2 separate regions of the Homo sapiens genome follow, and region 1 is linked to region 2. The links come from fine-mapping of genetic effects on gene expression. Tissue or cell type: aorta. Region 2 holds a variant in brackets; the other region holds the start of a gene. All regions are shown on one strand. Distances are between the middles of the regions. Region 1 holds the start of ARPP21 (cAMP regulated phosphoprotein 21). Region 2 has its middle 120 kb from the start of ARPP21.

Region 1 (2,920 bases), 110 kb before region 2:
TCTGATGAAAATCATTGCCAACTTCCAGCTTTCCATTTCTGTCTTTTCTGGGGGAAGGAGCGTCCATCCCTCCTTGACGAAACATAAAAAACACAATACATGTATAACAACATCAGCTTTCTACAAACACGAAGAAGAAATACAGACAAGAAAAAATTCAAAAGAAACAGACAGATATATGGCAGAAAGAAAGAAGGAATTCTAAAAATCCACAAAAGGCGTGCAATGTTCACGTCGGAAGACCTTGATTATTACCTTGATCGAACTGTGGATATCCCCCCTGCGTCTTGGTGCCTTGATTGGTTTGATTTAGTTTTGGATTTTATTAATATTATTGTTTCTCAATGATTGATTTGGCTGGATTTGTTTGTTTTGGCTTTTGGCTTGGCTTTTGTTGTTGTTGTTGTTGTTGGGTTTGTTTGTTTGTTTTGTTTTTGGTCGATTTATTTAACTGCTAGTAAAAGGAGCTTTCTGCAGTGTCGGCTGGGATCCCACACAGCTGTGGCAGCCAGGGCTGCGGCGGCGGCTCGGTCGCGGCTTGTGTCCCCGCTGCCCCTGCTGCTGCTGGTCTCTGCTCCGGACGCGCTCAGAAGGTGCCACCGCCGCCTTCTCTGGCCGGCTGGCCGCCGGGAGTGAACGCGCCCCCGCCTCCTGTCTGCTCTTCTGTCCGTCTGCACGTCTGTCAGTCCGACCGTCTGTGGGTCCGACTAGCAGCTCGGCGCGGGATTCTCGCTTTGCTGCGCTCTGCTCTCAAAGCTGCCACTCTCGCAGGCTGCCAGTCTGTGCGCTGGTCTGTCCGTCCGTCCGAATCCCTCCGTCCCACCAGCAATGCAGCGTCCCTCTTCCGGTCTTCTGTGCCCACAGTCCTCTCCCACTCTGTGCCCCTGGCCGCTTCGCTCGGTAAGAGGAGGGCGTGTGGAGGGAGGGAGCACGCGAGTGTTGCTGTCTATCTTTCTGTGTGCCTCTCCCTGCCTACTTAATGCTCTCGCTCTCTTTGCGTTCTGGTCTCCCTCTCTCAGGCTGTCTGACTGCTCCCACCTGTCCGTAGCTCTGCCAGTCCCACCCCTAGCCAGCCAGCCTCGGTCGATCCCTCGGTCCCGTTCCTCCAGCTTGGCCGCCTCCGTCGTCTGCCCCTCCGCCGGTCCGTGCCCTCCCACGCGGCTGGCACTGCCGCCGGGGGCGGCGCCCGGCTCCTCCCCGCAGCTCCGGATGCGTCCGGTCCCCGCCCGGGCTGAGGGCAACGCGCGTGTTGCACGTGGCTCCACAGCTGCTCTGGCCGGAGACCCCGGGCCCCAGACCCGCCACACCCGGGAGGTGGCGGCAGCCGGACGCCTGCCAGTGTCGCCGCCTCTGCGCCACTGGGAGCATCCAGAACTGGCCCATCCAGAGTGATGGCACCTGCTGGGTGCGCCGGGCGCCCGCGGTACCACTCATTCCCTGGGCCGTTCTCCGCCAGCCCTAAGGCTGGAGACAAAGCGCATGAGCCACGCGCAGCAGCGTGAGCATCATTAATCAGAAAGAAAACTGGCACGTTGCCCCCTGCCCCGCCACACCGCCTCCCTGCTCCCAGCGAGCAGGCATGTATTCTCTCTTGTCCCCCGTGCCCAGGCCCTCCAGCGTACCCGTCTCGGGGGCGCCCCTGGACTCCTGGGGACTCTTGACGAAGCCTTGTTCCACTCCCTCCACCGCTCACTCTCCAGGCCAACTCTGCAGAGACAATCCCACAATAATAACACCTCGCCCCACCCGAATGAATCCGTAGCCTCAGCGCTCTTGGAGATTCTTTGCTTTGAGCAAGACTGAAAGTCCGAACGTGCAGCACCAAGTGTACTCCCTGTGGGTGACTGCCCAGACCGCTGCCCACCTGATCGCTGATTTGGAATCACAGAGGTGCCACAGAAACCTGGGCAGGGTAGGACCTGGGGAAGGAACAGAGTTGACACCTGAAGAAATAAAAGCCTTGATTTTACCGCTTGTTCTAGAGATGCACTATTTTTATTGTCTGTAATTCATTGTTTTTTTTCATTGTCTCGGAGCACTCACTAACACACTACAAGGAAGGAAAAAAAAAAAAAAAGGAAAAGGCGTAGTGAAGGAGAGTGAATAAATTTCCGGAATTCCACCTACTCCTTCTGAGTGAATGTAGAGCCTACTTTTCCAACATTATAGGTCACCAGCCAAGATATACCACTCTAGCTTTCTGCTCCCAGCTGAGAGCAAGGCATTTGATTCTGGGCTTCTTTGCAAGGTTGTTATTAATGTGCAGCAAAATTATAGTTGTACACTCACACATGGAATTGCCAAAGCTCATTTTGACTATATCCAGCAATTCAGCTTCTGAAATGTAGACACTGAATAACTGTGTATCTGGCGAAATGAACGCCCCATCCCACAATAAACTGAAGAGGAGAAAATCAACTTTTACCAGTTGTAATTAGTAACCCCATGAATAGACAACAAACAAATAACTAGCATAAAACATGTTATGAAATTTTCCACATCCTTTTAGTTTCACTTATTGACACCCAACCATAATGACAGAGATTACAAACAGATTTATTAACATAAATGCCTTTGCATTATTATAGAAATGTGATTTCTACAGCTATGGCTGTGTTCATATACGCTAAGATATTGATTATAAATCTCAAATAAATGATACATGTACTTCTAGAAACTACTGTAAAAATGGAATGAGGTTGTACCGACCCTTGATGAGTAGGTAATTATTTTCCAACTATTCGAAATTGTCTCCCTTGGTGTTCAGCTCTCACTAGAATAAGAATGAATCTGCTGTATGAGGTTTCAGGCAAACCAAACCCAAATAATTCAAAACTGTTACTTTGATCTACATCCTGATCATTTCCACGTAGTCATCTCCAGAAGTGCTTTTTTACAAGTATTTTCTCCTTCCTTCCAA
Region 2 (2,920 bases):
CATAACTTTTGTATGAACCGAGAAACCAAAAACGTCATGCAACTCACTTTATTCTGTATTAACTTTATTGCAGTGGTCTTGGAACCACACCCATAATACCTCTGAGGTATGCCTGTATTTAGAGTTAAATGAAGATATTTTTAGAAGAATATGCTATATATGTTTTTATATGATAAACATTGAAATGTAGTAATATGAATATAAATTATATATGTGTGTGTCCTTTATATACCCATGTATACACATACACACATATACAGAGACACAAACATATACACACTTAAAATGGCTGGAAGTATACACATTGAACTGTTAACAGTAGCTAATTTTGAAGAATTGAACATATAGGATGATGCAGCTGGGGAGACACAGTTTTCCTTTTTGCTTAATACAGTGCTGTATTTTAACAATTTAAAGAGTATACATTAATGTGATGATGATTTAAAGCAGTTACCATTTTGAGAACATAAATAGAATTCTGAAGTTGGAATTCCTAAATGGACACCTCATTCTCAAAATAACTGCCACAGAAGAGCAGTAGTTAATGATTACACCAGGAGGGCAACTCTTAGGTTAATAGAAGTACACCATAGACAACTGGAATCTCATTTAAAATACAGAACTCTCAGGAAAAGAAAACACAGCTGACCCTGCTAGGCACAGAGAGCAGAGTGACTATAGCACAGAGGGAGTACATCACAGAGTTATCTCTATGGTCTCTTCAGGGGAAGAGTCCTATGAGCCAACCACACAGCAGGAGGCCATGGTGCAGACTCCATGACAAAGACCGATGAAACAGTCACGTGAAATTAGGTTTCTAAAGGCTTGAGGTGACATTTGATTATGGCTTTTGGAGATAAACTGTAGTAATCTGTGGAATTACATATACCCAGAATTTTGCCTGTATTAACTAATAGTATTTTCTGATTTTCTCTTAAAATTAATTAAAGTAGAAACAATATCAAAGAACATTCAATGAAAAAAATTCTAGCACTTCTAGAATAGATTCCCAGCAAGTTCACCAGATCCGGTCTTCTGGTAAAGAGCTATATAAAATAACTGGAACTTTTGGTGCCAAAGCTGTTTCTTACACAAGGAGAAAAATAGGTACAGACGGTGTCAGATTTTTTATCCTAATTCATTTTCCAGGCTTGTGTACAGTTTCTTACCCCCACTATATTTTCCAGTTCAGTGAATTCTTCAAAGAATTTTTGTATTGTGGAAATGAACATGTATGGTGTTTATTTGTGCTACAAATAAGTATTTTCTTTCAAGTAGGAAAAGAGTGGGAACCCATTTACTTGTTCAAGAGCAATTCAATTTCCTTGTTGACTGTCAAACAAGCCAGGGATGAAATTGATCAATTTCAGAAAAGTAATGAAAAGAATTGGCTAGGGATTCAAAAGGATCTATTTTAGGGGAAAATCAGTATGTAGATATACTTCAGGCTAATAAAATTATGGCCAAACTGAGTAACTACAATTTTTTGATATCAACATTGTTATCAGAAAAATATTTATTGGGTTTTATTACTGTGTAAAGAATAGATTTGAGTGAACATTCTTTGTTGTTCTTCACATTCCAAGATCCTTACGTAATGTAATGTTTCACTCTTCCA[A/G]TTATTTCAGCTGGCTGCTGCACCGCCAATGAGACTATTGTTGGGTAAAAGCAAACTGTGAATCTATGTGTATAGATGTTTGTCTTTTTTTATTTAACTAGACAATTTTAGAAGTTTTATAGATATTTCTGTTGTGAGGTAGGATAAACTACCGGAAAGAGGTAGGGAGGCAGTTACTGACAACGAGGTAGAGAAAACAGATTAAGGGTTTTGTTAGGTAGAGATTATGATGCCATATTTTAATGTATGACAAAACTAAAATAGCTGGTGGATATTTTTTATGCTGGATCATAGTAGGAAATACATGTTCCCAACTGGTAGTTTGAGGTCATGAAAGGGATTAAAATGTAGTTTGAGGAATACATTTTTTTCTTGCAAATGTTTATGTTGTTGAATTTTTAAAGCTGGAGATTGAGATTATGATAACAATGCATTTGGAAGATTTATCTAGTACTGAGAACAGGGCTGATTGTATAGTAATCAGTGAGAGACAAAGAAACCAGTTTAAAAAGGGATTGTCATAATGGTTGTGTGAGAAGAAAAGCAATTTAACTGAGGTGCTAGAAAGAATAAAAGTATCAAGAGACGGTTTGAAATAATTGTAAAAATGATTTGCTAGAACAAGAAAAAAGGAAAGATAATTTGACTCTTGGTATTAGAGGGTTTTTGATCCTGAACATCAGGGTTCCTGGAACTCAGAAAATCTGGTTTCTCATTCCAGTATGTGGCATTCACTAGCTGTGTGAGAAAGCATTATTTACATATCTTAGACTCTGCAAGTGTCGAAAAGAAGGTGGGGCACTGAACCAGTCTGTCCCATTTCCAGTACAAGAGACCTCAGTCCGGTGTCCCATCACTGAGCCAGACATCATAATGGATCATAAAGCTCTTTTCCATTGGGTACAAATGAAGCCTCATGATCCTTCTCAATTAAGGTCTCTAGACCAGGGGTCCCCAAACCCGGGGCCACAACCACTTCGTGGCCTGTTAAGAACCAGGCCACACAGCACGTGGTGAGTAGCGGGCCGCAGAGCATTATGGCCTGAGCTCCACCTCAGGCCATAATCAGCAGCCGCATTAGATTCTCATAGGAGCACAAATCCTAGCATGAACCACACATGTGAGAGATCTAGGTTGCACGCTCCCTAAGAGTCTAATGCCTGACAATCTGAGGTGGAATAGTTTCATCCTGAAACCATTCCCTCAGCCTTCCCCTACCCCAACATGCTCTGGACGTCTGATACCAACTGAAGGAATTTTGTATTCACAACAAAATCAGATTCTAATGTAGGAACTAGGTTT

The links. PIP is the estimated chance that this variant, and not a neighbour inherited with it, causes the effect.
Region 1: ARPP21 starts here. The variant in region 2 is the best candidate, but not a certain one, in a credible set for the expression of ARPP21 in aorta (GTEx, PIP 0.84).

The regions. Positions count from the first base shown.
Region 1 is chr3:35,637,734-35,640,653 of GRCh38, reverse strand. ARPP21 (cAMP regulated phosphoprotein 21) reads right to left here and starts at 1,129. Exons shown (of 21, transcript NM_001385562.1): 1 at 256-1,129.
Region 2 is chr3:35,522,744-35,525,663 of GRCh38, reverse strand. No RefSeq gene overlaps it. Among named protein-coding and RNA genes, the nearest start is that of ARPP21, 120 kb to the left of the region's middle. The variant A/G (reference allele first, on the strand shown) is at 1,619.